7 linked regions of the Homo sapiens genome follow. The protein of the gene in region 2 purifies or fractionates together with the protein of the main gene of each other region. This does not show direct contact. Each region holds a gene or a part of one and is shown on either strand. Other genes may lie near its edges.

Region 1 (3,457 bases), on a different chromosome or scaffold from region 2:
GAAGAAAAGGACAACAGGAAGAACAACATGAACAGGTCCAACACCATCCAATCTGGTCCAGAAGACAGCCTGGTCAACTCTCAGTCTTTAAAGTCCATTCCTGAGAAGTTTGTAGTTGATAAATCCACTGCAGGGGCTCTGGATAAAAAGGAAGGTGAGCAGGCTAAGGCCTTATTTGAGAAGGTGAAGAAGTTCAGGCTGCATGTGGAAGAAGGTGATATTCTATATGCCATGTATGTTCGCCAGACTGTACTTAAAGTTATCAAATTCCTAATCATCATTGCATATAATAGTGCTCTGGTTTCCAAGGTCCAGTTTACAGTGGACTGTAATGTGGACATTCAGGACATGACTGGATATAAAAACTTTTCTTGCAATCATACCATGGCACACTTGTTCTCAAAACTGTCCTTTTGCTATCTGTGCTTTGTTAGTATCTATGGATTGACGTGCCTTTATACCTTATACTGGCTGTTCTACCGTTCTCTACGGGAATATTCCTTTGAGTATGTCCGTCAGGAGACTGGAATTGATGATATTCCAGATGTGAAAAATGACTTTGCTTTTATGCTTCATATGATAGATCAGTATGACCCTCTCTATTCCAAGAGATTTGCAGTGTTCCTGTCTGAAGTCAGTGAAAACAAATTAAAGCAGCTGAACTTAAATAACGAATGGACTCCTGATAAACTGAGGCAGAAGCTACAGACAAATGCCCATAATCGACTGGAATTGCCTCTTATCATGCTCTCTGGCCTTCCAGACACTGTTTTTGAAATCACAGAGTTGCAATCTCTAAAACTTGAAATCATTAAGAACGTAATGATACCAGCCACCATTGCACAGCTAGACAATCTTCAAGAGCTCTCTCTGCACCAGTGTTCTGTCAAAATCCACAGTGCGGCGCTCTCTTTCCTGAAGGAAAACCTCAAGGTCTTGAGCGTCAAGTTTGATGACATGAGGGAACTCCCCCCCTGGATGTATGGGCTCCGAAATCTGGAAGAGCTGTACCTAGTTGGCTCTCTAAGTCATGATATTTCCAGAAATGTCACCCTTGAGTCTCTGCGGGATCTCAAAAGCCTTAAAATTCTCTCTATCAAAAGCAACGTTTCCAAAATCCCTCAGGCAGTGGTTGATGTTTCCAGCCATCTCCAGAAGATGTGCATACATAATGATGGCACCAAGCTGGTGATGCTCAACAACTTAAAGAAGATGACCAATCTGACAGAGCTGGAGCTGGTCCACTGTGACCTGGAGCGTATTCCTCATGCTGTGTTCAGCCTACTCAGCCTCCAGGAATTGGACCTGAAGGAAAACAATCTGAAATCTATAGAAGAAATCGTTAGCTTTCAGCACTTAAGAAAGTTGACAGTGCTAAAACTGTGGCATAACAGCATCACCTACATCCCAGAGCATATAAAGAAACTCACCAGCCTGGAACGCCTGTCCTTTAGTCACAATAAAATAGAGGTGCTGCCTTCCCACCTCTTCCTATGCAACAAGATCCGATACTTGGACTTATCGTACAATGACATTCGATTTATCCCCCCTGAAATTGGAGTTCTACAAAGTTTACAGTATTTTTCCATCACATGTAACAAAGTGGAAAGCCTTCCAGATGAACTCTACTTCTGCAAGAAACTTAAAACTCTGAAGATTGGAAAAAACAGCCTATCTGTACTTTCACCGAAAATTGGAAATTTGCTATTTCTTTCCTACTTAGATGTAAAAGGTAATCACTTTGAAATCCTCCCTCCTGAACTGGGTGACTGTCGGGCTCTGAAGCGAGCTGGTTTAGTTGTAGAAGATGCTCTGTTTGAAACTCTGCCTTCTGACGTCCGGGAGCAAATGAAAACAGAATAACTTATTTTTCGTTAAAGTTTGACTGAAACACGCTTCTACCAAATACAGTATAAATAATTAGGTAGTCTTAATGCCTTTCCTATTTTTTTTTCCTTTTCACACAAAATGTACACAAAGATCGCGTAAGGAGTATGTATTTTTAATAAAAATTTAATTGTATTTTTTCAATATTAATATTTTGAAGTTTTATTTGTCTTGAAACACAATGTATCTATTATCTACTGACAGAAAGAGATAGTTCCATTTGGTTTTTTGTTTTTGTTTTTTAGTTCATTCTTGTGGAAAGGAGGGAATTATAAGTTGCATGCTTTTTGGCATTTTTTAAATAGAGGAAGATATTTTGCCAAGGCCATTTTTAACTTGTTTACACCTGTACAGGGTTCTTATTTTTGTTTTCATTGTGTGTGTATCAAGGAATCTGTGCTAGTTATTTTAATACCAGCTGTCTTCTCCATTGGCCAAGACCTTCATTCAGTGGAACTTCACATAAGTGCATTGTCATAGAGTATTTTAAATGTTCCCCTGCCTCCAACAAAACCCTAAACTGTGTTATTTCATATACCTGACAGTTATTGTTATCCTTAGGCAAGGTTTTTGTGAGTGAAGAAAATAATCTTTAGTGGCTGGTATGTTTGAATTAGGCCTTTATCATTTAACTTATTTGCATTTTACCAACATTTTAAAAATATTTAAAACCTAAATACAGAGGCTCCTCCCACCTTAATCTCAATACTGCTATGTAGTACTGGTGAACAACTTTGGAGAACCTAGATTTATTTTAATATTCTAATAGATAATTAAATTTTAAAATGATAGAAGCCTGGTTTTTGAGTAATTTAATCATCTTTCATATCTTGATATGCAGCTGCATCAGATGGAAAAAAATTTACTAAAGCACCCTGTTAAAGAGCTGGTGTGCTCCAGTGAGGCCCTCTCCTTTTCTCAGCACAGTGTGGCAGTGGTAATCTATTCAAATTTTGCCTGTTACACAAAATAATCCACTTATATATACAGTCAGCCTTCCGTACTTGTGGGTTCTGCATCTGTGGATTCCACCAACTGTAGATGGAAAATACTCAAAAAGAAAGTTGTGTCTGTACTGAATATGTACAGACTTTTTCCTTGTCATTATTCCCTAAACAATACAGCGTAACAACTATTTAAATAGGATTTACATTGTTTTAGGTATTATAAATTACCTAGAGATGATTTAAAGTATATGGGAGGATGTGCATAGGTTATATGCAATTTCTGCACCATTTTATGTCAAGGATTTTGAACATCCTCAGATTTTGGTGTTCGAGGGCATCCTGGAATCAATTCCCCATGATACCGAGGGATGACTGGATATTAATCGATTTCCCTCAAGCCTGCCCTTGCTGTGAACTAGTGCTACAAGCACGGGAAATCCATCTGCTCTCTGGCTTAAAATATGTATCTCATCTAAAATTGTTCGTTAAAGTGTGAATAAATTGCTAAGTGGTTGTTGCTTAGCAATAATTTTTGCCTGACCATCAGCAGAGCTTTTATTTACCTTTGTAATTAAAATCCAACATAGCATGGGCTCTTGGGCAAAATATTTCACTGACTATTA
Region 2 (3,500 bases):
GAGATTGCACCACTGCCCCCCAGCCTGCATGACAGAGCGAGACTCCATCTCAAAAAAAAAAAAAAAAGAAAGAAAATAAATGCTCACTGAGAGTGACAGCACATCACAAGTGGGATCAGGGCAGTGTCCAAAGGAGCTGGGAGGGCTCTCAGGAGGAAGGGCAGAGACCTGTGGCACAGAGGGCTTGGACTGAAAGCAGAAAGCCTGGCAGATGGGAAAACAGGGTTATTCATTTATTTTTTGAGACAGAGTCACACTCCCGAGTAGCTGGGATTACAGGCGTGCACTAGCATGCCTGGCTAATTTTTGTATTTTTCGTAGAGGTGGGGTTTCAACCACGTTGGTCAGGCTGGTCTCAAACTCCTGATCTCAGGTGATCCACCCACCTCGGTCTCCCGGAATGCTAGGATTACAGGTGTGAGCCACCACGCCCGGCCAGAAAACAGAGTATTTTTGGGTGAAGTAGTGCCAAGAACCAAAAGTCGCTCCTGCTTGCTGTCATCCCTGTACTCCTGTGTCCACTCTTACCCCTGCACCCCCAGGCATGTCCTCACTCTTAGATCTTAATGGTCTCTTAGGGAGTCATGAGCCTGGGATGCGTCTGCTGCTTGTGACTCACATGCTTGTTTGGCCAGTCTCTTGAAATTCTCTCCATCCTTGGCCTCTTTTATCCTGATAATTCTCACCTTCCTCAGCCTGTTTTCACTTCCTGTCTCATACATTTAGGAGTATTCCAGAGTTCTTTTTTTGTTTTTATTCATGCTATTGGAAGTTCAGAACTTAAACTTTGTCTTTCTTTTTTTTCTTTTCTTTTCTTTTCCTCCCCTCCCCTCCCCTCCCTCCCTCCTTTCCTTCCTTCCTTCCTTCCTTCCTTCCTTCCTTCCTTCCTTCCTTCCTTCCTTCCTTCCTTCCTTCGAGACAGAGTCTCACTGTGTTGCCTAGGCCGAAGTGCAGTGGCACAATCACGGCTCACTGCAGCCTCAATCTCCTAGGCTCCAGAAATCCTCCCATCTCAGCCTCCCAAGTAGCTGGGACTACAGGCAAACACCATCGTGCCTGGCTTTTTTTTTTTTTTTTTTTGGAGAAATGAGGTCTCACTTTGTTGCCCAGGCTAGTCTCGAACTCCTGGATTCAAGCAATCCTGCCTCAACCTCCCAAAGTGCTGGGTTTACCCTGTTCTCACTTTATACCTTCATTTCTATGACTTCAGAATAGCATCCACATTTCAGCGATCCCAGATCTAGATCTCTAGTTCTCAGCTTCCTCCTGAGCTCAGACCACTATTTCAAACTCACACCTGCACCTTCCCAATCCTTCCAACCAGAAATATTCCACAGCTATCTCCAACCTGACTCAATATCTTCTCGGATCCTCTCCCTACCCCACCACACCCACCCTTGAAAAACCTGTTCCTCCTCTCCCACAGTCACTTATTTTGGGCACTCCTTTCTTTCTTTTTTCTTTTCTTTTCTTTTTTTTTTTTTTGAGACAAAGTCTTGCTCTGTTGCCCAGGCTGGAGTGCAGTGGTGCTATCTTGGCTCACTGCAACCTCTGCCCCCTGGGTTTAAGCGATTCTCCTGCCTCAGCCTCCCAAGTAGCTGGGACTACAGGCGCATGCCACCACGCCCGGCTAATTTTTGTATTTTCAGTAGAGATGGGGTTTCACTATGTTGGCCAGGCTAGTCTCAAACTCCTGACCTCAGGTGATCCACCTGCCTTGGCCTCCCAAAGTGCTGGGATTACAGGCGTGAGCAACTGTGCCTGGCCTTTTTTTTTTTTTTTTTTTTTTTTGAGATAGAGTCAGGGTGGAGTGCAGTGGTGTGATCTCAGCTCACTGCAGCCTCCACCTCTCCTGGGTTCAAGCAATTCTTCTGCCTTAGCCTCCTGAGTAGCTGGGATTGCAGGAATGTGCCACCACGCCCGGCTAATTTTTGTATTTTTAGTAGAGATGGGGTTTCACCATGTTGGCCAGACTGGTCTCAAACTTCTGACCTCTAGTGATCCACCTGCCTCACCCTCCCAAAGTGCTGGGATTACAGGCGTGAGCCACTGTGCCTGGCCTCAACTCTATTCTTTCCCTTCCCTTTCCTGCCCTGTAGTCTTTCCATTCCCAGGCCAACCCAGAGAGTTGCTGAGCCTGTGGGATTGATGTGAGGAAGGTCTCTGAAGTCCCTCTTGTTCCTCTTCTCCATCCCCAGCTGCTGTCCCTCAATTTGGTCCTCACTTCACCCATGTTGACAGTTGTGTCCTAGCCAGTCTTCCCGCTGTTGTCCTACCATGCTGTTGCACTCCCTTCACTGCTGATAGAATGATCATGTCACCCCTGACTGCAAATCTCTAGTTGTTCCCCGTTGCCTGTAGAGCAACATCCAAAGTCCCACAATCTGGCCCCACCCTCTTCAGACTGGTTCCCTGATACTCCAGACTCTTCTCTCCACACACCCCTCCACAGCCTCCATAACCTTCTCTCTTCTGAACACATGCAAGCTCTTTTTAAAGATTCTCGGCCAGGTGCGGTGGCTCAAGCCTGTAATCCCAGCACTTTGGGAGGCCAAGGCGGACGGATCACAAGGTCAGGAGATCAAGACCATCCTGGCTAACACGGTGAAACCCTGTCCCTACTAAAAATACAAAAAATTAGCTGGGCATGGTGGCACACACCTGTAATCCTAGCTACTCAGGAGGCTGAGGCAGGAGAATCACTTGAACCTGGGAAGCGGATGTTGCAGTGAACTGAGATCACGCCACTGCACTCCAGCCTGGACGACAGAGTGAGACTCCGTCTCAAAAATATATACATATATAAAATAAATAAATAAATAAAGATCCTGTGGCTTTGCAAGTGTGGTTCTTGCCTTCCTCTTTACTGTTTGCTAGGTTTCTTTCATCTCTCAAGATCCAACTCAGATTCCAGCTCAGTAGAGCCTTCCCTGACTCTCCCAGACAGCTTAATTACTCTCTCCTCTATGATCACACTGTGTCTCACCCTGTGTCTGCCCTCACCCTGTTACAGTGCTGATCATGTGCCATCACCTCTTGCCCTGGCTTCTGTGTGATTCTCTGTACTATTTGCTTCTCAAAGGCAGGAATCAAGGTTCTTTCTTGGTTTCCCTAGCCCAGTGCTTGGCATGGAATGGTTTGTGTATGGAGAGACTACACAGAGGTGCGAGGAGATAGTAAGTGTCCCATTTTGAGGGTAGATTCCTTTAGAGGATTGGTGCCAGGTCCTGGAAGGCCTTGAATGCCCGGCCAGGTGACTCAGACTTGCTTTTCTGAAGGGTTCCACACATTGCAGCCGGTGGCAGGAAGCGAGGCCTGAGTGTACCTTGCTCACTTACTGTTTTTTTTTTTTTTGGAGATGGGGTCTGTCTCTGTCACCCAGGCCAGGGTGCAGTAGCGCAATCATGGCTCACTGCAGCCTCGACCTCCTGGGCTCAGGCAGTTCTCCTGCCTCAGCCTCCAGTGTAGCTGGGACCACAGGTACCCACGACGAGACCTGG
Region 3 (2,244 bases), on a different chromosome or scaffold from region 2:
CTATTCACTGCCTTTCTGGTTTCTAAATCAATCTCTGGTTTAGTTGAGGTATCAGTTCTTCTGGGTCTGAACCACACGTGTTCACTCACAAAACTGAGCTGCTGAGGAGAAGTAGAGCTTGATCTTGTTATCACTAGATAGCTCTGTGTAGTCAGAGCGCCTAAATATCCTGCACTATGCTGACTGCTACCTCAAGCGGCAGAGACAGTAATACCCACCACCCTTACAGACAGCACAAATGACATGCTAGCACATTCAGGCCAGAGGCAGGAAGAAGGCATGTGTTTTCAAGACAGAAAGGCAGACTTAATAACACACATTCTCTTGGTTTTCTCATCTGTAAAATGGGAGGAATGATGCCTTGCCCAAGTGTTGCCAGGATTGAGTAAGATAATGTAGTGAAAGCACCCAGCACACAGAGGGTGCTGAATAAATGGTTGCTACTGTTATTGCCCTACGTCCAGGCTGACTACAACAAAAGTGATATTAGGCAAACACAGTAACAAGCAAGGAATGTTTTATTGTGTACATTTTCTCAAAAAAAAAAACCCACAAAAACAGAACCCACAAATAGGAGCAAAGAACAGTTTTCTAGCATCTCTGGGATACACAGGGCACCATATCTTATAGAAACATAGCTAGTACAAGAACAAAGTGTACTAATTAACATTACCCCTTGCTTCCCCAGTCAAAAAAGGCTATAGAGAAAAACACTTTAAATTGTACTCTAATACAAATTTGTTGCACAATTAAACTTCAACTTACTCAAAGAGTTATTGTATTGTAAACTGCAGAAAATAGAATAGGCATTCAATAAATCTGCTCACAATTAACAATTAAGCAATAGACACTTGAATAAATATAGCATGTATTACTTATTTGTTAAGCCTTACACTTACGATGAGCAGATGGTTTATCACTATATAGTAACAGATTTTTTTTACACTTTAGGAGATACCATATCCAATAACGGAAGTAGAAGTACTTTAACGAAAACTGATTTTAGAAAAATATCTCCTTGGGTCTGAGCTACTATGGTATTTATTACATATTTGGGTCAGTTTCACCAGTTTAAAAATATAGGTACTAACAAACTGAATTCTTTCATGGGAGAACAAAGTAATACATTCTAGAGCAATAGTATTTCTTTATATCCTTTAGGTAGCAGGACAGAGCTAGGACATAGTAAAGAGATTTACGATGTAATGAATAATTTGTTTCTACCTAATGCTATAGGGGTATTGCTATCATTTGAACTAAGAAAGAACAATTTTAAAACTTGTTTATAATGAAGAATCGGCATTTCCTTACCACATATATACTAGATGTAAATATAAGGATCTTCTCTAATAGTCTGTATTCCTTAATCCCTATCTGTACAAATTAGCCTGCATATTCAGGAATGGAACAACCAGTAAACTGTTACTTGAAGAACTAATTTAAATGATCCATTTAAGAGAAATGCAGTCAAAATAAGGCAATAACCATCAGCCTATCTGTACTTTTCTTCTGTGCCTACTCAGTAAAATTGAGAAAATAATTTTTGCCCACTTCTATAAAAATATCACCCCATTTGCTACCTAGCATATGAGAGAGACAAGACTAGCCTGTCACGTTTGTCTCTAAAAAGAAAAATGATAGGCCTGGTGGAGAGCAAGCTATATGGAAACATCAGCCTTTCCTTTTCTAAGATACGTCACTCCAATTCTTCCTTAAATATAAACTTCCTCCTTGATTTATATTAACCCCTTAGGAGGCACTATAATAACTTTATGTTCCCATGGAACATAGGGTTTTTCAAGAATTTCTTAAAATAAAAAAGGTTTGAAAGCTATGGAGTAAACTCAGCAGCTGTGATATTCCGTTCAATCTACCACAGATGTCAAACGGTCACATTTTACAGAAGTCAAAGGAAAACAAAACCACAGTTCTGCACTCTTCCACAGGGCAAGGAATTGATCATATTCTATTTTCCTTTCAGGAATTCATAAAATCCCTAGGATAGCACCTTTGTATGGGCTGAACCATTAACTGAACTAAAATTAATACAGGAAGCTTAACATTCAACATTGTGCTTGAACAAAACTTACCACTACTCAATTTTTCTTCCAAACTATGTTAGTAATATACATTTTGCAAAGAGTCTAGAAAGTTTTTAAAAGAAATCTCTTTAGGTGATGTAACACGAAAACTCTAAGGAACAACAAAACCCTTCAGTCTTATTTCTGAAGACAAGTCTATGTT
Region 4 (3,500 bases), on a different chromosome or scaffold from region 2:
GTAACATGACTGAAAATTATTAGTGTAAGGTGAGGTTAGTATAAGGTGATAGGAAGTTGTCTGTGAAATTCTTGAGAGCTCTTTGAATTTATAACCAAAAGAACTGAATTTGTCTGTTCATTTTACAATCTGTTACAAGGCATTTGGATTGAAAGGATGGAAAGATGGCCGTAGGAAACAAGTAGCTTACTATGTAGGAGGTAGGTACACAAATAACTAATTATTATACAATCCATTTAATAAGCCCTGTACAAAAGGTATCTATATCTATCTATCTATCTATATATATATATCTATATCTATATATATATATATATCTATATATATATATATATATCTATATATAGATATATATATATCTATATATATATATATATATACTGTCACATGACTCAGGGAGGGACATCTCATTGTATATTGATAGGAATGGTACCAGGGAAAGTTTCAGAGATTTTGCCAATAGATGGGGGTGGAGAGTGGGAGGAAGGGTGGAGGGGGCAGTATTGATAGAGCATCCATTTCACATTCTGTATTACCACAAAGTTGTTGGATGGTATTGAGCAAGTCACTTAATGTTTCCGATTCTAAGTTTTTTTAATCAGTAAAATGGGGTTGTTAATACTTACCTAACAGGATTGTTTTAAAGATTAAAGAAGAAAGGATTATTCAAGTAATATCTGTTAAATGTTTTCAGTTGTAAAGCTTTTTACAGTGTATTATTTCTTTGAAAATCAGCTTATTCCATTTTTAGACAGCTATAGTAGTTAAAAGTTCTTTAGTACATTATGCTGATGTCTGTCTTAGAAATGTAAAAATCCTACTTTTCTTATTGCAGACATTCAAATGTCACTGTCCTTACATATACGTAAATCATATGTACCTATTCAGGCTATAGTTTTTTAAAAATAGTAGTTTAAAAGGGGATTAGGGATTTGTCTCATATGAAGTGTAATGAATAGAATGAATATGGTAGGAAAGACGGTTTAGATAAGGATTAAGAAGTAAAAGGCAAATAGTTTCTTTTTTTCTCTGTAAATCATTATTATAGTTTAGTAATTCTATTTAGTACATTGGTAAATGGTAGTACAAAAAAACAGGTTAAGTCTAGACCTTAGACTCTGAGACAGAATCTTAAAAGATTTGTAATCTGAAGTAAGTATGATGCTTCAGTGTCTTCGTATTTTTTCTTTCTAATGCTTTTTTGGGGGTTAACTCTGAAATGAAAAGATCTGACAGTAATTATGTGGAATTGGTCAATAGTGCCAGGAACTGATCTGTATATACCCCTGGGACACAGTAAGGGTCAGTTGAGACTAGTAAACTTATGCATATTTAAAACTTGTGAACAAGTGAAGTGTTTTTTGTTTTGTGTTTTTTTTTGGTGGGGGCAGCATTTCTTAAGCAATTTATTCTAAAAGATAATCTATTTCTATTAAATTTAGTTTTTAAAATGTGTTTTGACATCAGTTTCCAATTTTAGATACAGCTGTTGGACATGATATTCAGTAAAATAACACAACCTTACTATTTTCAAGGCATTGTTTAATATTGTTGGAATTTGAGGTGGGTGGAAAATGGCATTCAGAAAATTATTTCATGAAATAAATGGGACATATGCTAGGACTTAAAAATCTTGAAATTGTTAAGCTTCTACAGTATTTGCAATGGATTTTGGCTGCTATTTAGCAGTATAAATTAAGAAGCTAAGATCTTAGAGAAATTTTAGCAAAAATTCAGTAACCATTAAATCATCCCCGTAATTTTACTATATCTCCCCTCCAGACAGTTCACCAAACTGTGAACACATTAGTCTGTCACCAGTACAGTTGACTAATCTTTATGAACAGCTGTTATAACATGCGTTACTACAATGGGATTTCATTCAAATTTGGGCTTTAAAAAATAATTTTAAAACTTAAGTTAGCTCTTTCTTTCTTTTCTTTCTTATGTGTCTGTCTGTCTTTATTTTGATGGAGTCTCTGTCATCCAGGCCGGAGTGCAGTGGCGTGATCTCAGTTCACTGTAACCTCTGCCTCCCGGGTTCAAGCAATTCTCCTGCCTCAGCCTCCCGAGTAGCTGGGATTACAGGTGCTCACCACCACGCCTGGCTAATTTTTGTGTTTTTAGTAGAGACGAGTTTCACCATGTTGGCCAGGCTGGTCTCAAACTCCTGACCTTAGGTGATCTGCCCACTTAGGCCTCCCAAAGTGCTGGGATTATAGGTGTGAAGCCACCGCGCCTGGCCCCTTTAAGCATTTTCTATGCTTTTGATGACATATACTTTCTAAGAGTGTTTTCAAGCTTAAACTTTTTTTTTTTTTGTAGAAATGCCAGTTATGTAGAAAATCGATATTCACATTTTAGATTGTATGTTTTATTAATAGTTTTTTTGAAGTTAGTTTGTTTATACTAAGAACTTTCAAGTTTAACAAAAATCAGTCTTGCATGGTAACACATCTCTTGGTCTGTACTTATTTTCTCTCTTAAGGCAAACTGCAAAGCTATGTTCCTTTTAATGGAATATTATGAGGTAATGAAGTATTATAAAATATTTTATATTGTATAAAAGGAATTTTGATCTTTTAAATTTAGTATACAATATTTTTGGTCATGTAGGAGAAAAAAGAATACAAGCACTTTTAAGTAGACTCTATTTTAATCTATTAGTCTCATGTCATTTATTTTTTGTAAGTAAATAAACAATACCAAAATGTATTCTTTTATGTATCTTTACTCATATATTCCATGTCCACCCTTTTCATGACTGTGTTATGGCATGATAGAATGAAATGGCCTTATTAACCTGGCAGGATGGTGGATATTGATCAAAGGGTTATCGTGATATTTTAAAGGCTTGTTTTTTAGAATAAGGTAAATATACCATAGCATACTGTTTGATTTCAGTATGTAAGATAATCCTGAACATCAAGATTTTGACATGTATTTGTTTTTGCATGGCATACATATAGATGATGCTATAAAGACTGAGTTGAAGATTTCTGTTTGATTCTATAAGTCCCAACATGATCTGGTCCTTGCTTCACTCTCCAGATTCCCTTACCGCAAGTCATTTCCCCATTCATTTCACTGCAGCTGCTTTGGTCTTTTATTCATTTCTGAGAAGATACTTTCAGGCTTTTCATGTGCCTGAACTGCCCCATCTCCAGTCTGCTTAATATTAAACTCATCCTTTAGGTCTCAGCCTGGGTGGAGATCACTTAGGTTAAATAATCAATCTTAACATTATTTTTCCAGCATAATGTTGGCTTCTGGAATGCTCTTATGTAATATATAAACCGTTACCTTTATAAAATCTGAAAAATTCTTAAACAGATGATAAATAAGCAAAAACAAAAACAGAAACAAAAACAAAACAAAAAATAAACCCAAAAAAACCACCCCAAACTAATAAAGTTTAACTTCAACAAAAGGATATTGGCTTGAGGGAGGTTGTGTTAATCTATCTTTTGAATTCATTTTGACTGTTGTAAAGATAATTA
Region 5 (4,286 bases), on a different chromosome or scaffold from region 2:
GCCCGGGAGGGGGTTCCTCAGCCTCCCGCTTCCCTCAACACCCTGCGACCCCCGCCCCAGCCTGCCCAGGTTTCCTGCTCCCAGCACAGCAGGTGCAGCCAGCCATGTGCACAAAGGCCAGGCTGGTTCCCTGGGCTGCACTCGAGCAGCTCCTCCCAGCCCTGCACACATGGGGCAGCAGCTCTACCCAACCTCTCCCAGGGGTTCTGGGGAGGAGGGAGCAGGGGAGGGGGCGGGGAGGGCCCAGAGAAGGGACAGTAGTGCCCTGGGGGCCCCTGGGCAACCCAGACATGGAGGGGGGGGCAAGCTTGTGCCTGGCCACCTATGCCAGTGCCACCAGGTGCTGGGGGGGACACGGAAAGGACAGGAATCTTGCCCTCACCTGGCTCCCGAGCCAGGGGCCGGGGCACCCTGTGAGGACACTCAGAGGGAGGGAGTGTGCAAAGCCTGCAGGGCCTGGGAGGATGCGTGCTGGGGCTGCCTCTCCCAAATCCTGCTGGGGCGCAGGCTCTCAGGGTGGCTTCTGATGACAAATCCAGGCAGTAATAAGGGGCCCAGGGCATCACATCCCATAGCGTCATGAGACCAGCCCAGGGTGCCAGATGCAGGGCCCTGAGTGGGGAGGGTGCTGCTCTGGGCACCTGCTTTCTGCCCTCCCTCATTCACCCCTCCCCAGACTTTGATGAAACCATCTGTGGCTCCCGGCCTCTGCAGGACCCAGCCCCTCAGCTCCTCAGCCCCTGCAGGTGTCCCTCGGTACTGCCTCACGCCATCCTGCCCCAGGTGATAACTATGCCCTGAGCCCCCACCATTTCCACTGGGCACATCCCAGAAATACGCATTCACAGACCAGGCACGCCCATGACTGCGGCCAGATTTTAAAAGGAATCACCAGAAATGTAATCTCCAGTGGTCCTAGAGCCCCCTGGGCACCCAGCTTCTGGCACCCTGTGGACACCCAGGAGTGGGGGTCGGCCCAACCAGCTGCGCAGCCGCCCAGCCCTGCCAGCGGGGAGCTTCCTCCCTCCCTGCCCTCCGGATACACCCTCACCCCAACTGAGCGAGCCCAGGGTTGGGGGAGGTGCATAGTTCCCTTCCTAGCCGGTGCGAGAAATTGCGGAGAACAGGGAAGAGGGTGGCAGGAAGGGTCTGGTGCACGATACCCGCCGCGCCCGCTCGGAATCCTGGTTCCCTGGAGCGCTCACCCCAGCCCGCCCTGCCCCGGGGAGCGCGAGGGGGCGACCCGCCAGGCTGCACCCGGGCGGGGCGGGGATGGCGGCGGGGGCTGCCTCCCTCCTCCGCCGCCACCCCCCACTGCTGGGCGCGCCGCGCGGCCGCCGGCTCCGTGGAGACGCGCAGAGCCGGGAGGGCGCGGGCGCGGCGGGAGGTGTGCGGGGCTGGGGTGCGCGGAGAGCGCGAGGGAGGAGATTCTGAGCGAGGGAGGGGAGCGCGCCCGGGCAGCAGTGCGTGCGCTCCTCCCGGCGCCACAAGCTCGCCCCGCGCAGCCCGAGCCGGGCTGGGCGCTGTCCTCGGGGGCCTGGGGAACCGCGCGGTTTGGAGATCGGAGGCACCTGGAACCCGTGGCAAGCGCCGAGCCGGGAGACAGCCCGAGGAACCACGGGTTCTGGAGCTAGGAGCCGGAAGCTGGGAGTCCGGAGGAGAGCGGAGCCCGGAGCCCGGAGCCCGGGGCGGCGCGTCTGGGTCTGGCGCTTCCCGACTGGACGGCGCGCCCGCTGGTCTTCGCCACGCGCCCTCCCCTGGGCTCCCGTTCATCGGTCCCCGCCTGAGACGCGCCCACTCCTGCCCGGACTTCCAGCCCCGGAGGCGCCGGACAGAGCCGCGGACTCCAGCGCCCACCATGCGCCTCAACAGCTCCGCGCCGGGAACCCCGGGCACGCCGGCCGCCGACCCCTTCCAGCGGGCGCAGGCCGGACTGGAGGAGGCGCTGCTGGCCCCGGGCTTCGGCAACGCTTCGGGCAACGCGTCGGAGCGCGTCCTGGCGGCACCCAGCAGCGAGCTGGACGTGAACACCGACATCTACTCCAAGGTGCTGGTGACCGCCGTGTACCTGGCGCTCTTCGTGGTGGGCACGGTGGGCAACACGGTGACGGCGTTCACGCTGGCGCGGAAGAAGTCGCTGCAGAGCCTGCAGAGCACGGTGCATTACCACCTGGGCAGCCTGGCGCTGTCCGACCTGCTCACCCTGCTGCTGGCCATGCCCGTGGAGCTGTACAACTTCATCTGGGTGCACCACCCCTGGGCCTTCGGCGACGCCGGCTGCCGCGGCTACTACTTCCTGCGCGACGCCTGCACCTACGCCACGGCCCTCAACGTGGCCAGCCTGAGTGTGGAGCGCTACCTGGCCATCTGCCACCCCTTCAAGGCCAAGACCCTCATGTCCCGAAGCCGCACCAAGAAGTTCATCAGCGCCATCTGGCTCGCCTCGGCCCTGCTGGCGGTGCCTATGCTGTTCACCATGGGCGAGCAGAACCGCAGCGCCGACGGCCAGCACGCCGGCGGCCTGGTGTGCACCCCCACCATCCACACTGCCACCGTCAAGGTCGTCATACAGGTGAGCCTCAGTAACCAGCCCCGGGGCTCCCCTCTCCTTCACCCCAAAAGCAGTGCCAGTGGTGTGCCTTCTGGGTAGGGAGTGGGAGAGATGTCACAGAGACAGTCTACTCCTGCGAGGCTGGGAAGGCGGTTGGGGCAGCTTGGGGGCAGCTCCAGAGTTGCCAGGCTCAGCCCCTATCTTCTTCCCTCCTGTTGAGGGGATGGAGCCCCTGCCTGTGACCTCTCTGGTGTTGGTGGCTGGGCCTCGGACATCTCTGAATTCCTTAAGCCTAATGGAAACATGTGCGCTGGCACCTGCGTCTCCAAAGGAAGAGTAACACTTTCATCAGCTTCTCAAAAGACTGTGCCACCAACAGGTGATGTTCCTTCCTCTGCAGAGAAGCCCCCAGACTGGCTCTGCCGGTGCCTCCCAGCTGCCTGCCCTGACCCAAACTTGGGAGTCAGAACAGAACCTGATGCCGTGTTGGGCCAGTTCCTAGTTTAGCCTCAGCTTTCCCATCTGTGTGATGGGGTAGTGATAGCATTGACCTCAGAAGGTAGAGCATTGGAGAGAGGACGCGTGGGAAGTGTTTGCATGGCCCCTGACACATAGAAGGGCTCACAGGCACTATTATTGCGGGATGGTGGGGACGATGTTTCTGCGGGGAAGGTTGTGAGGATCTGCGTGTGGCGGCGGTGTTGTGGTGAGGTGTGTAAAACTGGAGCCGAGTGACTAAGGGCCCTCCAAGGGTCTGAGCAAAGCGCCGTGGGAATGCGGGTGGGAAGCCCCCTTGGGAATCAGTTTGGCTGAGGTTCGTGGCACGGGGGGTTCCAGTGCTGGAGGGGAGGGCTGATCAAACCAAAGCCCCGAGCAGGAGGCTGGTGTCCAGGGAGGAAGTCAGGGCCGGTCGGGAACTTTGAAAGGCATCTTGGAAATGAGCAGCCTTAGAAGTGTGGGGTTTCCTCCATTTCTGGTGGGCTAAGGAAGCCAGAGGGTGAAGGATCCGGGCAGAGTCGCCTACCTCTGCCCAGCTAGAGGGGCCAGGGTGGCTGGCTGTCCCCCCAACTCCCCACACACCAGCATCGCCAGCCTCCCAGCTAAGCTTCTGTAGTTGCCTGGGCACCCCGCGTATGCCAGTATGCCCGGTGGGGGTGAGGGCAGCAGTGCCGGGCAGGGGGTCACCTGTCTGTCACTCCCTGGGCCCTAACTGACCCTCCACTGGCCACCACCCAGGTGGGCTGGGGGGTGGAGGAGGGTAGAACTGAGCTCCCAGTCTCCCTGGCTGCACATAGAACTGGTGGCTACAGGTGTCCCATCTCGGGGAGGCCCCTCCCACAGACACTGGTGGCAGGCAGTGAGTCAGGGCTGCTTTGCTTCTGCGGCGAGAGTCCCTCCCCTCACCAGAGGCAGAAGTAGGCACGGCCTGTGGGGTAAACACAGTGAGAAATGACCTCTCCCTCCCTTTGAGGCTTTATCTGCTCTCCCCAAGCTCCTGTCTTTGATTGGCATTGGCCAGGGGGAACCTCTCCCCAGTCCGCGTGGAGGGGCCCCAGGGGCGACAGCCACTCAGTCCTTCAGAAGGTGGGCAGTGGAGGGGTCAGCGCTGTCACTGCCCACCCAGGAGATGCCCCCACTCAGACCCCGGATCCCCCCACTCAGACCCCCGATCCCCCCGCTCAGATCCCCGATCCCCCCGCTCAGAACCCCGATCCCCCTGCTCCCCTGGCAAAAG
Region 6 (3,500 bases), on a different chromosome or scaffold from region 2:
TCTGGGAGGTGGAGGTAGCAGTGAGCTGAGATTGTGCCACTGCACTCCTGCCTGGGTGACAGATCCAGACTAGGAGATAAGATACAGAAGATAATTCATTTGCAGAAGGGATATTAGTATTGAACGAAAACCTAGAAAAAGGACTTCTTACCCACTGGGACTTTTAAGTTTATTTTTGAGGGTTCTGTGTAACTGGTGTGCAGAATTGCATCAAAGCTGCATGTTTTCTTTTCTCCTAGGTGTTCTATTACTCAACAGGAATCTTCAAGGATGCAGGTGTTCAAGAGCCCATCTATGCCACCATCGGCGCGGGTGTGGTTAATACTATCTTCACTGTAGTTTCTGTAAGTTGGATGGTTTGGTAATTTTGAGGGGAGAAAAGAATCCTTGCTACAGATGTTCAAAGATGGATTGCATGACCCTACCATCATTTAGTTACCTTTTTGTTGCTTAATTTTCCTTTGGGAAAAAGAGATAAATTTAATGTTGGATGTAGTCTTCACTCTTCAAGCAAATATGGGATGGATGGGAAAGGAGGGAGTATAGAAGGGACTATATAGTATGCTTTGAACTTGGAATTGGAGGAAAGGTGCTTGGAAAAACTCTCAAGCTCTGTTACTCCACTGTTTTTACACTAAAACAACAATAATCAACAGAAGTTATCTGTGATCCCCAGAATATGTGAGAATTTTTCCCCGTGAGGTGTGCAATCAGTTCCGTAGTGGACACCATCTAGGTGTCCTGCGATTTTTTAATTATGACACTGTCTACCTGGAGATAGCATCAGATCTCACAGGTTGGTGGCCCAGTTCCCAAGACTGCCCCCCACTCCTGATGCCAGTCACAAGCTCCAGGTTGTTTTACCTGTGCTTCTGACTCACCAGCTGTAGATCAGGATTCCCACGACATCCTCTTTGGGTTTGATTAATTTGCTACAGTGGCTCACAAAACTCAGGAAAATTGTTTCCTAGTTTGATTTAAAGGATATTTTAAAGCACAGAAATACACAACCAGATGAAGAGATTCACGGGGCGAGGTCTGGAGGGATCCTGAGCATGGGAGCTTCTGTCTCTGTGGGGTTGGGGTGCACTCCTAGCACATAGATGAGTTGTTGCTGACCTTCCTGTCAGCTTCCACGGGTTCAGATATCTGGAAGCTCCCCATACCCTGCCTTTTGGGCCTTTTATGCAGACTTAATTGGTTCTCCATGATTGAAGCATGGACAACTGTTCTGACCTGTGATTGGACAAAAAGGGAATGATCTGAACCCAGCTGGGCCTGTCTGCTTAGATGATTTGTTGGCCTCTCTGTAGCGTTTCTTCCTCTAGGGTGTGGGGCAGGACCCTCTCTGAAATGAGGGTTTTATGACCCACAGTCAGATTAGCGTCCTGCCAAGTGGGAGGGCAGGAGAAAGTCAGAGAAGAATTCTGTTATCTGAGGCCTGCTCCTGAGGCCTGAAGCATCCCAACATTATGACAAAAGACTCTACCAAGGGCTATGGGGATTTTGAGCCAGGACCTGTGAATGGCACACAATATGTATGTATATAAAATCATAAATCACAGGAGGGGTATCCATAACAAGTGTCCTGCTGTTGGTAAGGCAGATTTCAAGTAGCTCAGATGCTGTTTTCATGGAAAGGAAAACTGAAGTTTCATGTCATATTCTTCTTCCAGCTATTTCTGGTGGAAAGGGCAGGAAGAAGGACTCTGCATATGATAGGCCTTGGAGGGATGGCTTTTTGTTCCACGCTCATGACTGTTTCTTTGTTATTAAAGGTAGGTGCTCTTTGGGTGAAAAAAAAGGGAGGGGGAAAGAAGAGAGGTTACAGTTGACTTCTGTGACACAAGGGGTGGGTTGTTAAGGTTGCAGTTTGTCAATAAAGTCAGAGGAGAGAAGCAGGATGCCCAGAGTTTAAGAAACATGGGTCGTCAGAGAACTGGAGGTAAACTGTTAGAATCCTTACATTTATAGAACATTATTATAGCTTATAAAATAAATTATCTAATTTAATTCTTAGAATAATATCAAGGTAATCACACTTAATAGATGATGACATGGTCTCAGTACAAAGTGACATATATGAGATCATATAGATGGGATTGAAAAATTCAATCCTCAGCTGGGCGCGGTGGCTCACGCCTGTAATCCCAGCACACTGGGAGGGTGAGGCAGGCGGATCACCTGATGTCGAGAGTTCAAGACCAGCCTGACCAACATGGAGAAACCCCGTCTCTATTAAAAATAGAAAATTAGCCAGGAGTGGTGGTGCATGCCTCTAATGTCAGCTACTTGGGAGGCTGAGGCAGGAGAATTGCTTGAACCCAGGAGGCAGAGGTTGTGGTAAGTTGAGATGGTGCCATTGCACTCCAGCCTGAGCGACAAGAGCGAAACTCTCTCTCAAAAAAAAAAAAAAAAATCCAATCCTGGCTGGGCGCAGTGGTTCATGCCTGTCATCACAACACTTTGGAAGGCCAAGGTTAGAGGATTGCTTGAGCCCAGAAGTTCAAGACCAGCCTACGCAACATGGCAAGAAACTTTCTCTACAAAAAAACAAAAAAAAATTTTTTTTTTGAGACAGGGTTTCACTCTGTCACCAGGCTGGAGAGCAGTGGCAGGATCTCAGCTCACTGCAACCTCTGCCTCCTGGGCTTAAGTGTTTCTGCTGCCTCAGCCTCCCAGGTAGCTGGGATTATAGGCACGTGCCACCACGCTCAGCTAATTTTTGTACTTCTTAGTAGAGACTGTGTTTCACCATGTTAGCCAGGCTGGTCTCCAACTCTTGACCTCAGATAATCCACCTGCCTTGGCGTGAGCCACAGCTCCTGGCCAAAAAAAAAATTTTTTTTTAATTAGGCAGGTGTGGTGGCACATGCTTCAAGTCCAAGCGATTTGAGAGGCTGAGGTGGGAGGATTGCTTATGCCCAGGAGATCGATGATGCAGTGAGCTATTGTAGTGCCACTGCCCTCCAGCATGGGCAACAGAGTAAGACCCTGTCTCAAAAAATAAAAATAAAAATAAATCCAAGCCTTTTGACTCCACAGCCACTCTTTGTATTGTACGTCAGGGACAGGAGGAGCTTGCCGTTAATTGCTTCTGGGAACCTAGATACTAGGTTACACTGTCTTTAAATTTAATTTTCTCTGTTCCTTGCTCTTACAGGATAACTATAATGGGATGAGCTTTGTCTGTATTGGGGCTATCTTGGTCTTTGTAGCCTTCTTTGAAATTGGACCAGGCCCCATTCCCTGGTTTATTGTGGCCGAACTCTTCAGCCAGGGCCCCCGCCCAGCTGCGATGGCAGTGGCCGGCTGCTCCAACTGGACCTCCAACTTCCTAGTCGGATTGCTCTTCCCCTCCGCTGCTGTAAGTAAACTCACCTTATCTTAAAACCAGCCTATGTAAGCTGACATGAAGATACTCCTTAATAATACAGTAGTCTGGGCCTGGCATGGTGGCTCATGCCTGTAATCCTAGCACTGTGGGAGGCTGAGGCGGG
Region 7 (3,500 bases), on a different chromosome or scaffold from region 2:
CACTTGGTTAGGTTTGGATCGGATCCTGCCTATCAGATGAGATGATTTCTCTCTGGGGTTGGAGTGAGCATTAAAATAGCTTTGCCTGGCATATTTCTCCTTGGGAGGCACTTGATAATGTTACATGTTGGGGTCTTCCCTCTGTACCCTGGCCCAAGTAGGTAAATCCAGCCTATGTGTGTGTTATGGCCCCTGGTCCCGAAGCAGGGGGTGGGGCGTGGGACTCAGGGGCCTTTCCAGTCTTGGCATTAACCAGGAGGCTCACGGTTTTGTCTCCCTCCACAGCCTGGACGTGTCTCCTCAGGTAGAATCTGACCCAGCTGCTCTTCCTCACCACCTCCCCTGCTCCCCCTGGGCTCCGGCCCCTCCCACTCCTGCTCCCACTGCTGCTCCCATGCTAAGCACTAACCTTTTTGCAGCCGCCTCCCCCGCTGCTGCCACTGCTGCCGCTGCCGCCACCACCGCCGCCCCTGAAGCCACCCCACCTGGATTATTGGGTCTTACCAACCCGTTCCTCACCTCTTTGCAGAGCAACCCCTTCTTCGAGGAGCTCATAGCCGACATAGCACTAAACTCTCCTTCACCTGCTCCCTCTCTCCCCAGTGCCTCGAGGGCCAGCCCCACCCCCCTGGCCTCCCCTGGGAAAGCCCTGCCTGAGTGGGACAACACCTTCAACGTCTTTGCTGCCAGCAGGCTGCGTCCAGAGGCCAGGAGCGAGATCCTGGCCCCTGCAGGAGTGGGGCTGGAGGCGGCAGGGCTGCAAGACCCAGGCCCTGGGGCCATGACTGCGAAGGCAGCTGAGCCCCAGGGAGAGCCTGGGGGAGGAGGAGGAGGAGGAGGAGGAGGAGGAGGAAGAGGTGGGAGCAGCGTGTGGCTGGAGCCCAGGGTTCCTCTGGACTTGGGACCGAACCACCAGAGCGCGAGCGCGGCTGACCCAGGGCTCCTCGGGTCGGTAGGGGCTGGCCTGCCCTCCTCGTCAGCCCAGCTACAGCTGAGAGCCTCAGGCTCAGAACCAGACAGGGAACTGCCAGCCCCGGAAGTGGAAGCAGGGCAGAGTCCGGCAGACAGTGGGACATCTCTATTTAGCTCCCCAGAAGTGATCAGTGTGTGGGAGAGGCTGCCGGGCCCAGAGAGCGCTGCTGAGGGCCAGGACGATGAGTCCTCCCGAGGCGAAAATCAGCTTTGCCCTGACGTCGAGACAGCTGATGATGCCTGGCCTTGGGATGTGGTCACCATTTCTCCTGCAGCTGAGACAGCCTCACTAGTCTTTCGGGGAGAGTCTGATGAGCCTGCTCCCCAGGTGCAGCCTGAATCACCAGAAACTGTGAGCCCCAAGGGGAGCGAGGGGCTTCCCCCACCGGAGCCCGAGCCTAAACCCGAGTGGGTGTCTGACAAGGGGCTGCAGCCCAGCACCCCACCTCCCAAGCCACCGCGCCTCTTCACACCCTCAAGATCCCAGGAGGAGGAGGAGGAGAAGGCCGCAGTGGGGCTGAGTAACAGGGGGCCGGAGACAGAGGGAGAAGATGCCTCCCCAAGTGCACTGGTTGTCGGTCCCCCGGAGACCAAGGAGGAGGGAGAGAAGCGTGAGTCGGAGGAGTCTGACAGCTGCTCCTCTGCAACCCTGCTGGGCCAGCCTGGCCTGGAAGAGCTAGTGGAGGATGCCAGCCCCCCTGTGTCTGGGCCCTGCCTGTCTGCACCCGCCAGCTGCCCTGAGGGTCCTGCCCCCATACCCTGTCACTCAAAGAGCTTGGCTCTTCAGAGTCAGCACATCTGGGGGACTCCAGAGGTTGGAGAAGGCCCTGAGGCTCCTGAGGCCCAGGGCCAGGATCCAGTAGGAGAGGGGCTTGGGTCCTTGTCAGCCACCTCCCAGCAGGCTGATGTGTGGGTCTCCAAGGAAGATGCCTTGAACCCCTTCTTGTTTCAGGGGAGCCGAGATCCTCCCAGCCTCTCATCTGCATCCCCGCCAGGGTCGAGGGAATCTTCTATTCATTCTGGTCCAGAAGAGCTGCCCACTCCCCCAGAGCCTGACTTTCCACCGCCCCCTCTCCCGCCTTGGGCCAGCCACCACCGTGGGGGGCCCAGCCCTCCATGCTCTCCCCTGTCTGAAGCCTGGCCCCTGACTACCTCCTCTGCACCACCAGGGGAGCCAGCCTTACTCCCTGGCCCCCATGAGCCCTCCCCACCTGGGGGCTCCCCTGCCCTACTTAGGGAGGACCTCGCTGCAGCCACCCCAGCCTCCCCGCTTGTGCTTCTGCCCTTGGAGACACGACCAGCTGAGGAGCCACAGCCCAGTGCCAGGTGAGCATCCACCCCCAGAACACTGTCCAGGAGGAAGGGGGTGGACAGGGGGCAGAACAGCCCAAGGGACTGAGGGGTTCACACTCCAGTCTCATCCTTTGTGGGGCAGGTGAGGGTCTCTTTTACCCCAGAGGCAAGACGGTACAGGCTTTGAAGACAGGAGCTTTCTATGGTACCACCTCTGAAGCTGCTGTCTTGGGACTTGGGATAATCAAGGCAGCCCCCCACAAGCCAGGGGTTTGGAGAACAGCACTGATGAGGTGCAGGGTATAAGGAATGAAGTGGGGAGAGCCGATGTGGGCTGGCAGGGAAGGAGAGCAGTGCTGTAGGCCCTTCTGGAGTGTGTGCACTCAGCCGCAGGGGAGCTGTGGGTGGGGGGCGGTGGAACTTGTCAATCAGGGGGTAGTTCTTGGGGCAGACCGTGGCAGAGCAGGCTGGCAGTGGAGCCTTGAGCAGTTTCCTATTCTGCTAGAGTGAGGGTGCAGGCTGGGGAAGGCAGAGAGCCAGAGGAGGGACCAGCACTTAGGTCAGAGAGAAAGCTGCAGACACCTTCAGAAGAAAAAGGAAAACTCAAACACTTCCCACATATGTAACTCTCAGAAGAAAGGTTCCCCACGCGCAGCAGTTGCTTCATTGGTTTGCGTTTGGTGCCTTTTAAGGGGTGGTTCTGATGCACTTAGGACCGCTGAGTGGACAGCGGATGCCTGTGTGACTGTGCTCACTGTGGCATTGGGAGGTTTGGAAGAATTATGAAGCTGTGACCTCACCAGGTGGCTGGTCAGGGGTGATGTGGGCAGAGGCCTGGAGACTCAGGGCACTGGGAGGTGATGGGGTGTGACTTAGAAGGCAGCAAGTCCCTCTGGGACGATAGCGCTCTAGGAGGACCGAGTGAAGGGAGGGGAGAGCAGGGCAGGCTCCAGCACTGGCCTCCCGACCAGGCATTCATGTTTGGTCATCCACATTCACTGAGCACCTACTATGTGTCAGATGCTGAACAGATGAAAGACACTGTCTCCACTCTGTTCCCAAGGAATGTCCAATCCACTGGGGAAGATAAAGTGGACCCAAGAAGGGAAGAAACCCCAAGGGGCCAGAACTACATATGGGAAGTGGGTGGGAGGGAGTCCAGGCTGCCCCCAGTGTCCCTCCCTGGTGGTGGTGGTGACTCTCCTCCCTTGAGGTGAGGGAGAGGATGTGGGGGA

What was found.
Region 1: the proteins of SCAMP2 (region 2) and LRRC8C purify together in Homo sapiens (affinity purification with mass spectrometry; one large-scale study listed by BioGRID and IntAct). This does not show direct contact.
Region 3: the proteins of SCAMP2 (region 2) and WDFY1 purify together in Homo sapiens (affinity purification with mass spectrometry; one large-scale study listed by BioGRID and IntAct). This does not show direct contact.
Region 4: the proteins of SCAMP2 (region 2) and DIPK2A purify together in Homo sapiens (co-immunoprecipitation; one study listed by IntAct). This does not show direct contact.
Region 5: the proteins of SCAMP2 (region 2) and NTSR1 purify together in Homo sapiens (affinity purification with mass spectrometry; one large-scale study listed by BioGRID and IntAct). This does not show direct contact.
Region 6: the proteins of SCAMP2 (region 2) and SLC2A3 fractionate together in Homo sapiens (co-fractionation; one large-scale study listed by BioGRID). This does not show direct contact.
Region 7: the proteins of SCAMP2 (region 2) and RAB11FIP5 purify together in Homo sapiens (affinity purification with mass spectrometry; one large-scale study listed by BioGRID and IntAct). This does not show direct contact.

Annotation. Positions count from the first base shown.
Region 1 is NC_000001.11:89,713,120-89,716,576, forward strand, and holds part of LRRC8C (volume-regulated anion channel subunit LRRC8C), read left to right. Parts: coding exon 1-1,863; 3' UTR 1,864-3,457. UniProt on the Homo sapiens protein: Non-essential component of the volume-regulated anion channel (VRAC, also named VSOAC channel), an anion channel required to maintain a constant cell volume in response to extracellular or intracellular osmotic changes.
Region 2 is NC_000015.10:74,863,366-74,866,865, reverse strand, and holds part of SCAMP2 (secretory carrier-associated membrane protein 2), read left to right. Parts: intron 1-3,500. UniProt on the Homo sapiens protein: Functions in post-Golgi recycling pathways. Acts as a recycling carrier to the cell surface.
Region 3 is NC_000002.12:223,874,848-223,877,091, forward strand, and holds the end of WDFY1 (WD repeat and FYVE domain-containing protein 1), read right to left. Parts: 3' UTR 501-2,244; downstream 1-500. UniProt on the Homo sapiens protein: Positively regulates TLR3- and TLR4-mediated signaling pathways by bridging the interaction between TLR3 or TLR4 and TICAM1.
Region 4 is NC_000003.12:143,978,323-143,981,822, forward strand, and holds part of DIPK2A (divergent protein kinase domain 2A isoform a precursor), read left to right. Parts: intron 1-3,500. UniProt on the Homo sapiens protein: May play a role in cardiomyocyte proliferation through paracrine signaling and activation of the PPI3K-AKT-CDK7 signaling cascade.
Region 5 is NC_000020.11:62,707,350-62,711,635, forward strand, and holds the start of NTSR1 (neurotensin receptor type 1), read left to right. Parts: upstream 1-1,486; 5' UTR 1,487-1,858; coding exon 1,859-2,572; intron 2,573-4,286. UniProt on the Homo sapiens protein: G-protein coupled receptor for the tridecapeptide neurotensin (NTS). Signaling is effected via G proteins that activate a phosphatidylinositol-calcium second messenger system.
Region 6 is NC_000012.12:7,922,688-7,926,187, reverse strand, and holds part of SLC2A3 (solute carrier family 2, facilitated glucose transporter member 3), read left to right. Parts: intron 1-239; coding exon 240-344; intron 345-1,676; coding exon 1,677-1,778; intron 1,779-3,163; coding exon 3,164-3,367; intron 3,368-3,500. UniProt on the Homo sapiens protein: Facilitative glucose transporter. Can also mediate the uptake of various other monosaccharides across the cell membrane. Mediates the uptake of glucose, 2-deoxyglucose, galactose, mannose, xylose and fucose, and probably also dehydroascorbate.
Region 7 is NC_000002.12:73,078,449-73,081,948, reverse strand, and holds part of RAB11FIP5 (rab11 family-interacting protein 5), read left to right. Parts: intron 1-285; coding exon 286-2,298; intron 2,299-3,500. UniProt on the Homo sapiens protein: Rab effector involved in protein trafficking from apical recycling endosomes to the apical plasma membrane. Involved in insulin granule exocytosis. May regulate V-ATPase intracellular transport in response to extracellular acidosis.